2 separate regions of the Homo sapiens genome follow, and region 2 is linked to region 1. The links come from fine-mapping of genetic effects on gene expression. A gene starts in region 1. The other region holds a variant in brackets. All regions are shown on one strand. Distances are between the middles of the regions.

Region 1 (5,384 bases):
TCTCCTGGATCCTACCTTGACCTTCATCCCTGAGCACAAGTTCTCCAAAGTCAATATAGTCATCCTCCTTATGATCAAGGATGACCGTACTGAGCTCTTTCCACGTGCCAGGCACTGCTCTAAGCACTTTTATGTATGAATTCACTTAAGCCTCACAGCAACCTGTGAGATAGGTACTGATTATCCCTACTGTACAGATAATGAAGCTATGCATGGAGAGGTTAAATAAATAATCTACCCAAAAGCATATCACTCATCCCTGGTGCAACAGGGATTTGAACCCAAGCACTCTGGCTCCAGAGCCTGTCACTTTTAACAACTACTTTTAATAACTACATTTTAAAAAGGCTGAGAGTAAAGTATTTGGTAAATATTAAGTTTTTGTTTCTTGGGAGAAAAGAGCCACTACCTTTGGTGTTTCCAAGCCTCTTTTTAGGGCCCTAAGGTTCCCAAGATGCTTTTTCAGTGTGTAAATTCTTCCACTTAGGATTCTAAGATCTCAAGAAAGAAAGTGAGAAACTGACCCTTTTTTCTATATTAAGATCCCACCCAAAGAATAATCAAGTAGAAGCCATAACAAATAGACATGGTTCTTTGACAATCTCTTCACTTTAGGAAACGAAGGCACTCCTTACCCTGCGAGTGGGCAGGAAAGGGTGGCTCTTCATTGAAGGAGACCCATTCTGACTGGTGGGTGGCAATCACATGGTCCAAAGTCGTCATGCTAAAAAGGCACTGGTCATCTTCACACTGCTGACCTCAGGTGAACCCCAGAATACTGTCTGGGGTGGGCTGGAGTAGGGGTATGGTAGTACGGTAGACTTGGGTCCAGGGTCTGTTCTAGGTGTCTTGCCAAGGGCAGTACTCAGAATGTAGACAGATCAGCCTCTCTTGCCGTTGGTTAATCTGCCAGGCAGAAATCTGTTTAACAAACAAACAAACAAAAAATTAAAAAGGATAACCATCACATTACACTGAATCCACATAGGTCTAGGGCTTTTAGCGCTGCCCACAAGAAGGCTTGGGGTGGTTTCCAACTTGCCTTACTTCACTCTGTTCCTGTCATGCCCTCACCTTTTATACTGAAATGTCTGTCTTTAGCATCAAGGTTTCTAGATAAGCCTTCATATCACACTTGCAAATAATTACACAAATTTCAGCAATTAGATTCTCTAATTTCCCTAATTATTGTATTTTAGAAATATTGTCATCTATAATACTATCATTGCTAAACAAATATTAAAACTTTTCAAAATGCTTTCACTTTCTCTTACTAGCTGGCAAAATAAAAGCATGTTCTTTTCTATTAAATTAGTCCAGTTTCTTGCCTTAGGCAGGTAACTCTTTATAAACCTGATTTAAATCTCTGGCAGAAACCCAACAATCTCCAGATGGTATCTCCAAGCATGGTTTATCAATCAAGAAAAATAGAAATGAAGTGATCTTGTTCATTTGGAGTAAGAGGATAGGGAACATCTGTGGTAGTGAAAAATGTGAGTTAGAGTAACATTTTCAATCTAGGCCTATTTAAATTAGTTACAATGGTCTAGCCTTTGCTCACACTGCAATTATGTTCTAGGAATACAGAAAGATTCTTAATTGACATAATTTTGTTCATGGTATTAATATCTTTTTACAACCTGAACCTAGCTCTTGATCTAATAATGATTTATAATGAATTAATAAAATCTGAATTTATCTAAAATTAATGTGCTTCCATAGAAGAGCTACTATATACCTTGAACAATATCAGTTCTTATTAACTAAATATACACAATATTCAGATAGTTTCTAGAACAACTTAACTCACAGTCTTCCAATTGCTGCACAATGAAAAGTTTAGGAAATTTTACTACAGGTTATCATCTGCAGTAAATAATCTCTAGGTGGGAAAATCGGTAAAAACATGAACAGCTTTTGCTTTTTTGGTGTTTAAAACAGTTTTGGCATATGATGCTTCCTAAAAACAACTAATGTTTATATAGAATTTATAATTTTCAGAAACACATTTTCATACCATACTTCACTTGATTCAGTAGCCATTTTGATGAGTAGGACTCATAGTACTCTAATTCTTCTATGGATAAAGAAATTTGGGCTGAGAAAAATTAAGTGACTTACCTAATACTTTTAGTGCTTCCAGGCCCTTTTGGTAAAATGCTTCCTCCAGGCTAAGTGGAAGAGTTTACAAATCTCAGCACAGTGGCTGACTTTTCTTCATAATAAGATCTCACCCAAAGAATAATCAAGTAAAAGCCATAACAAGCAGGTGTGTTTGAAGCACCACACTAAGTGATAGATCCAACCCTTGAGCCCAGGTCTTCTGCAGCCAAAACACTCTAACCCTGGTGTCACAGCCGCAAAGAAGTACAACAGAATACAGTACATATAGACTATCACCCAACTTAAGTACTTTACAAATATCAATTACAATGGAACTGTAATGAAATGTCCGGGAAACTCCCCATGTGAAAGTTTGCCAGCACACCCCAAGCTGTATAAAGGATGGGAAGCCCAGAAGCCTCTTCTCCAAGTCCCTCTCCTAGGATCCTTGCCAACCACAAGGCCAGACATAGGCAAACAGCCTGGAGAGAGCAGGTCTCCCAAACCAGATCTTACCAGAGAGCAGTGCAGGGTCCACAAGCACAAAGAGCTGATTCCCACTGGCTTCTGCCTTTGACGACTTTCTCAAGCCCTGTCAAATGTGTGTCACTCAATGTGGTAATGGCTGCGGGCCAAGATAAGGCAGTAAAATTGAAGAGTCAGATTCCTCCTCTTTCAACGACAGCAGCATGTAAACCAGCCCCACAGCACCCGTCAAAAAAAAAAAAAAAAAAACCCACAATACAAGTCCCTATGCTGACACATGCAGTGTCATCACTCAATGGGGAAAACATCCTGCCAATCCTGCAATGATGAACCCAGCAAAAGTCATGGATAAGTGGGGTAGGGAAGAGAACAGGGGACGAAGGTGAAGGTAAGAGGAAAATATTTAAAAATTTTAAACTGAAAGGTTTTAAAGATCAACAACTTCAGGTGTTATGAGAAAACTGAGGCCCAAGGAAATCAGGCACACGAATAGAGATTGTGATCACAGGCCCAGGAGTTAGGTTGTTCGGATTTGAGTCCTATACAGTCTTGGAGTCCTATACAGTCGTGGACTCATAACTCAACCTCTTTAAGCTTCAGTTCAACCTTGTACAGAAAGAATAATAAAACTCACTCCATAATTCCGAGGATTAAACAAGATAATGTACGCCAAGTACTAAGGACTGGATGTAATAAACCCTCTGTAACGATGACAATGAAAACAGCAGGTGACCTTACAGAGGGCTTACTGTGCCCCAGGCTCCATTCCAAACCAATGTTAGCCATCGCCAGCACTGCTGCTATTGTTAAATGACTCGCCCAACGTTGCGTAACTTGTTCGTAGAAGTCTTGGGACTGGAATGCAGATTTCATGAAACCACTGCATTTCTGTCATTTGCAGAATCTGGTTTCAGTCATTGTTCAAAATGCTAAGTAGAGTCATGTGCTCAGCTACAGTGCCCAGAAGGCAGATTCTAAATCCTCTTCATTATAGATATAGGTGCATTCTGGCCAAAGTACCAAGACCATTCCTCAGAACGTATGAACGAAAAAAGAGCCCCAAAACTTTATCTATCCTTCCTTCACTTGTCCCAGACCAGACATGGGCTGGTGACAGACAATGAGTGGTCCCAATGAAGACTGGTGGAACAAATTGATCACATGGAACCCCCCATCATATTCCATACCATAAATCCATAAAATGGATTTTAGGTATTTGCCATGGAAGAGCCACACCAATAAGCCATAAGAAATCAGACCTTGAAAAGTGCTGTGCTAAGCAGCTGGAAACCCACAGAAGAACCCAATAATTGTGAGGTTAAGTTCATACTGGAATTAGTTGCTTGGTAAAAACCTCACCCCATTTTTAGAATGTGAATCATAAAATGAGGTTTAGAATCACCACAAATGAGTGGTGACTCAGTATCAGCAGGAGGATTGACCAACAGATGCTAAAAGTTTCATTGAAGTCTTGGAGTTGCCATTTCAGAGAGCTACTTCTTTCTCAGCATTATACAAAAATTTGTAGAAGGGAGAATGCAATTGTCTGATAAGATGGGGGTCATAGAAGTAGTTTTGTCTTATGACAGTCCTCTAATTGCCACAGTTTAGCCGTAGGGAGATCTCTGAGAGTTGGAACCATATGGGACTGGGTGGGTTTCTGAGATGTGAAGGATGTCCTTGATTCTGGACCAACAGAGGGACAAGTGAGGGAAGCCTCTGGACAGGGGATCACCGCAAGTGACAGTAAAAATCAGAAGCAGACCTTAACAAGGTGTGTTTCTGTCTGAACAAGCCTCTGTCTGATGAGAGCAGAGGTATCTACTGGGGGAATATGGAGTGAAGGGATTGATTGACCATAAAAGCTAAGGAGAGTTCAAGGGGAAATGAGAAGCTGTGGGAGGTTTAAAAGCAGAGAGTGACTCAAGAAGTGTGCTTAAGGGAGATAAGCCTTCCTCAGACAGTGCTGGACAGAAGCGTGGTGATGGAATTTTTCAGCCATCAGTACCTCCGGTGTGTCTCACAAAGTTGGGGGGCACAGTCATCAGGAACATGTACTGTTTCTGCCCATTCTAGGGCCTGAGGGTCAAGGGAGAACAAAACAGCATCTCTGCCCTCAAGCAGCTGTCAACTGCAGGGAGATACCACAGCAACCTAAAACAATAACCTCTGCTCTCTAACCTATTCTGGTGGTTAGTCACCAAAAGTAGGACAGCAGCAAGTAAGAGTGTTAAGAGACTTCTGAGAGCTTGAGCTATAGGTGGTCTTGAACTGTACCCTAAGCCGGAAAGGAGGGGTCTGAGCAAAAGAGCTGAGGGGCACAGGCACTCAGGAAGGGGGAGCAGGAATGGTATGTCTAGCCCACAGTGAGTTACACTCTGTTCATCTGAAGAGGGTGTCAAGCATCCTGGAAAAGGAGCTCTAAGTTTCAGAACGAGTTTGAGCTCTGGAGCTTACCCTCTCCAATCCCACTGCCAATGCCTTGGCTCAGCCCCTCATGATCTCTCACGCAGACAGTTGCAAGTCTCCTACCTGTCTCCCTGCCTTCAGTATCACCTGCTCAAACCTACTATCCAGCCTATTATGGTAGAGTTATCTTCCTAAAACCTGAAAATGGCTATGCTACAGCTCTGCTTACAGCTCCTCAAAGTCTCCTCACAGGATAAAATGAGGTATGAGAAATGAACAAAGGATTCCTGAGAGCAGGGGTTGCATGCTATACCCTCAGCATTGAGCATAGTGCCTGGCACAGGTTAGCAGCTCAATAAAAATTGTCGTATAAATGCAGGCACTTT
Region 2 (5,384 bases), 23 kb after region 1:
CTGGGTTATTTATGCTCATGGAGCATCTGCAGGTTTTTAGAAGTCTGTCACAGAACATCGCCCATTCATTCATTCATTCATTCAATAAGCATTCAGCATCTCCTATTGCTAGGGATGTTCTTGTGAAATTCTAAGAACAGAGAGAGGACTAAGATCCAGCACCTGCCTTGGAGAGAGAGACAGGCAAATAAATAATCACAGTATGGTGTGACCAGGGCAATGAGGAGAATGTAGCAGTGCGATGGGTGCATAGGAGTGACACCTAGCCCAATTTGGGGTCAGTGAAGAATAACAGGGAAGGTAACAAGTGGTTGAAAGATGAATAGAAATTAGTTCTGTGAGGCAGGGGTCACTGGTGGAGAAAATGGACATTCCAAGCTGGCAGGATGGTATCTATAAGAACAAAGCATGACAATACAAAATGGTCAATAAGAGGGTACCATTGCACTCAGCCATGCTTAACCACTCACGTTAACATGCAAAACTGTTGTTTGCTATCAAAGGGTGTATGCAACCTCCCTGATTCCTACGTCCACCCCCAAACCTGCCCCTCCCTAACCTCACACCTGAACATCACCCATCACTGACCCCAACCCCTGCAGTGTGTGTCACAGACAGGGTGGGATCTGGACATGAATAAGGCATGATGTGAAGGGAGGACGAGAGGCTCAGAAATGAGGTTCATGTTCAAGGATGGCCTGAGATTCAGCATTAATGTTAGAAATAGGTCAGGGGGCAGGGATGGGATGAAGCACTGAGACGGTATGAGGATGTCTTTTTGTTACCCGACTTGGAATGTGAAGAGCAATAGTTTTTTCAAGGCCTCCACTCAAAACAGCTGCATTAAAAATGTATTATGCCCCTACTGAGTCCAGAAGATGAATAAAAAGATATGTTTTCTGAACTATAGGTGATTTACTTTGACGAAGCAATGAGCCAGAAGGAGAAAAGTAAGACAGGAGGCTGGAGAGCTAGGAGTCAGGTCAGACAGGGCCCAGTAGGCCATGCCAAGAAGGCTGGGTTTTGTCATAAAGGCAATGGAGATCGATTAAACAATTTAAGCAGGGAAATAACATGACCCAATTTGTTTTTTAGAAAAAGGTTATTCTGGAAGCAATGAGAGAGATCAACCAGAGAGTGAAAAGACCAGCTAGTAATTAGAGTGATTAGGCATCGCAAGATGGGGGATAGAGAGGAAAGGTGTTTTTACAGCCATTTAGGATGTAATGTTATCAAGATATGGGGATAGAATCTTTTTTGGACTCATTGAGATTGTGGAAGTAAAGATGCAGTAGGTGGATGAAAAAAACCTTTGGAAAACTGGATCAATTTTTGTACCATTTGCCAAGATAAGGACTTCAAGAGGAAGAATGGTTGGGACATAAAAGGGAGGTGATGAGCTTAGCATTAGGCCCAGTGATTTGATGGGCCCGTGGGACAACCACATTGAGATGTTGTCTTTAGGACCTGTTAAATAGGCAGATTTAGAGCTCAGAAGAAGAGAGATGAGTGCTAAAAACACAGACTGAGAGGCCACTGGAAGCTGGGGATTTGGACTGGGTAACTCAGAATAATAAGAGGAAAAACAAGAACCAAGGCTGGAACCCTGGGGAAGGTCATTTGTGTTTAGCACAGGATAAACAGCCACTTGGAAGAAGTTCCTCATAAATGTGTTATCTTGTCACCATCATGAGGGCCTGGATTATCTTAGAACTCAGCAGAAGATCAGGTGCTATGATTTGGACATGCTTTGTTTGGCCCTGCCAAGTCTCCTGTTGTAGTTTGATCCCCAGTGTTGGTGGTGGGGCTCAGTAAGAGGTGTTTGGATGGTGAGGCCAGATCCCTATGAATGGCTTGGTACCATTCTCACAGGAGTGAGTGAGTTCTCACTCAGTTCCTGCGAGAACTGAAGTTGAAAAGAGCCTGGCACCTCCTCCTTTTTCTCTTGTTTCTGCTGTCTTGCTATGTGATCTCTGCACACCTGGGTCCCCTTTACCTTCCATCCTGAGTGGAACCAACCTGAAGCCCTCACCAGAAGCAGATGTTGGCGCCATGCTTCTTGTACAACCCGCAGAACTATGAGCCAAATAAACCTCTTTTCTTTATAAATTACCCAGTCTTGGGTGTTCCTTAACAGCAACACAAACACACTGAGACACCAGGTAAAAGAGATATTTGTGTTCATTCCAACTAGTCAATACTATGATAATACAGAATATTAAGGGAGCTCTGAGTGTGCTTGAGAAAGGAGAGAATAGGAGGCATTAGGACAGAGGTCACAGATTTCTGGATGCCCAGTTTTCCAGCATTTGAAGAAGTGAAACCATCTTTCTGCAGCATGGGCTTCAGTAAGTGCACGGGTTTCTGTGGGTCCACCTAGTATTTCTAGACTTCCAGGCCAGGCACGGTGGCTCACGCCTGTAATCGCAGCACTTTGGGAGGCTGAGGCGGGCAGATCACGAGGTCAGGAGTTCAAGACTAGCCTGGCCAACATGGTGAAACCCCGTCTCTACTAAAGATACAAAAAAAATTAGCTGGGTGTGGAGGTATGCACCTGTAATCCCAGCTACTCAAGAGGCTGAGGTAGGAAAATCGCTTGAACCCTGGAGGCGGAGGTTGCAGTGAGCCAAGATGGCACCACCGCACTCCAGCCTGGGAGACAGGGCAAGACTCTGTCTCAAAAAAAAAAAAAGATTTCTAGATTTCCAGCTTTCCAGCACTTGAAAAAGTGAAACTATCTTCATCTTCCTGCAACATGACCTTCTATAGGTATACCTAAGGTGCGCTGCACACTTTTCTTGATGTTATCACTACGTACACAAGTCACCAACCAGGAAGAGTTCTCAAGTTAGGGCCAAGACCAAGATGTACAACTCAGACTTGAAGGCCTCTCCTTGAAACTGGTTCTTAGCCTTTAAACAAAAAATTATAGCTCTCTGAATCTCTTTGAGTTATAATTTAAGCCAGAGACTCTCATCTCTGGAAAAATACACATACATGCAACATTAATTATAATTTAAGGCACTTCACAGACACACTTCTCAAAGTCCTAGGGATCTGTGGACTCCCTGTTAAAAACTGTCACCCTAGAACAACTTA[T/C]CTGGCTCAAGTTGCTTTCGGGCCTTTCAAAACAAAACAAAATTATTCCAGAGGAGCCCAGCAGAAGGAAGCCAGGCACTGTGGCTTCTACTGACCCTGAACTGATAATTCCTTATTTCCGTTTTCAGCAAAGCGGAGGATACGTCCTTCCCTTTTCTGAGAATCCTTCCCCTCCCTCTTCCCCCAACAAAACAGACGCATGGGCATAAAACCAAAACAGCCTGGCCAAAGGCTAAAACACAGGCTGCTGCAGTGGCCTCATGGGGCAGCTGCACAGGGGCCCCTGGCTGATCATGATGTTATCCTTGTGAACCAGGCCTCTCACAAACAAGAAACCGACGCATCCCAAGTTTGTGTCTGCTGACTGAAGGCTGGGGCATGTGGGTGTCTCCAACTGCCAGGGACAGCCACAAGGAACCAGGACACACTGGGTGGGCTTGGCACAGTGCGAGAGTCGATGTCTGTTGACTGAGGCCTGGCTGCTTTGGTAGAGTGGAGTCTGAGGTTTTGATACATGAAATGCACTACTGACATCCCCTATGTTTAAAGTAAATTCTAAATGTGGAGAGCAGGTATGTTATGAAATGCCACAGCTTGCAGGACAAAAGAATTCTCACAGTATAAAATGTGAGCAAATGAGCACCTTTCAATGGTGACAACTCACTCATCCCCACACTCCTAGTTTATTTCCTTCTTTTATTTTTCCTAATCAGGCACGGTGGCTCATGCCTATAATCCCAGCACTTTGGGAGGCCAAGGCAGGCAGATCACTTGATGTCAGGAGTTTGAGACCAGCCTGGCCAACATGGTGAAACCCCATCTCTACTAAAAAGATAAAAATTAGCTGGGAGTGGTGGCGCACACCTAAAACCCCAGCTACTTGGGAGGCTGAGGCAAGAGAATCGCTTGAACACGGGAAGCTGAGGTTGCAGTGAGCCAAGATCGCGCCACTGTACTCCAGCCTGGATGACAAAGCAAGACACCATATCAAAAAAAAATATTTTTCTGATTTCTGTTTTTATTATAAACAGAATACACTCTCACTAAAAAAAAAAAAAATGGAAAATACAGAAAAGTATAATCACTGGAGTACTTCTACAATGATATGATTTTTAAAATTCCATCAGCATGCATTTCTTCAACTTCTCAGGGACACTTCCATTGTTTAAGGGTAAGGCATTCCTTATAGTGGGAGGACAGGCTGTCACCACAGACAATGGGACAGGATCCTTTGACCTTGTGACTTCCTGGGCTCTCATCTCAGTGGCTAAGAATTATGTATTCTATTGTTTTTTCCAAGTTGATAGAAATTTCCCACCATGTATGCCTATTCTCCTTACTTTCTCAATCTGAAAGACCAAAAGAAAAATTTAATCACTGGAAGCTCTTTCCTATTAATGTTTCTGCTTTGTTGTTTCTAAAGATTTTTTCTTTCAGTCTTCACATCACCCTCTCCCATTTAGAGACAGTTTCTCAAAAACCACAGTAGGGATTTAGAAACACACCACACTGTTACATACATTTGGTCCTGACACCACTAATAGCAGTATTTCTTTTGGTAGATGTCTCACTGACAGTAACTCTTGCAAAACAGAAAAGCTACAAATTCAAAGCATATAAACCATAAATGCAAATACAGCAGACATAATAATTAGAGAATGGAGTGACAAGACTTCAGAATGTGATTCTCCACATCTCTGGGTTCTTATTTAGCTTTGAGAGTGAGAGTTTTTTAGAAACAGATTCAGAATATTATTATTTGCTAAGTGAAATAAAATGGATTAGAGGAATTTTCCAACCAAGTGTAAAACTTGGATTTAAAATAGTAGAGAAGACTGAGCTTGGTGGCTCATGCCTGGAATCCCACCACTTTAAGAGGCTGAGGAGGAGGGAGGATCATTTGAGGTCAGGAGTTCGAGACCAGCTTAGCCAACAAAGTGAAACTCCATCTCCACTACCAACACAAAATTAGCTGGGCACGGTGGCTCACACCTGTAATCCCAGCTACTTGGGAGGCTTAGGCAGGAGAATCACTTGAATTCAGGAGGCAGAGATTGCAGTGAGCCAAGATCATGCCACTGTACTCCAGCCTGGACGACAGAGTGAACTCTGCCATCAAAAAAAAAAAAGTAGGGAAGATTGGTTAGTATCTTAGGGAAGAGTGAGAGAACCTTCTTACCTGGCTCATGGTGGCAAAGAGCAAACATGAGGTTATTATACGTAATACTAAAACACTGTCATCCAGTGGTATCTCTTTTGTTCTGTGTTTCAGTTTTCATATCTCT

Direction of the effects. Alleles are on the strand shown, and positions count from the first base shown. SD is a standard deviation of normalised expression in the study named.
As copies of C replace T in region 2, the expression in visceral fat of the gene that starts at base 2,665 in region 1 goes down (small effect, 0.21 SD a copy in GTEx).

What was found. PIP is the estimated chance that this variant, and not a neighbour inherited with it, causes the effect. A credible set is the group of variants that fine-mapping cannot tell apart.
Region 2: its variant is the best candidate, but not a certain one, in a credible set for the expression of STON2 in visceral fat (GTEx, PIP 0.59).

Annotation. Positions count from the first base shown.
Region 1 is chr14:81,397,660-81,403,043 of GRCh38, forward strand. It overlaps STON2 (stonin 2), which reads right to left and starts at 2,665. Exons shown (of 8, transcript NM_001394390.1): 1 at 2,620-2,665; 2 at 636-921. The coding sequence starts at 723.
Region 2 is chr14:81,420,356-81,425,739 of GRCh38, forward strand. It overlaps a transcript of STON2 not described here. Among named protein-coding and RNA genes, the nearest start is that of STON2, 23 kb to the left of the region's middle. The variant T/C (reference allele first, on the strand shown) is at 3,100.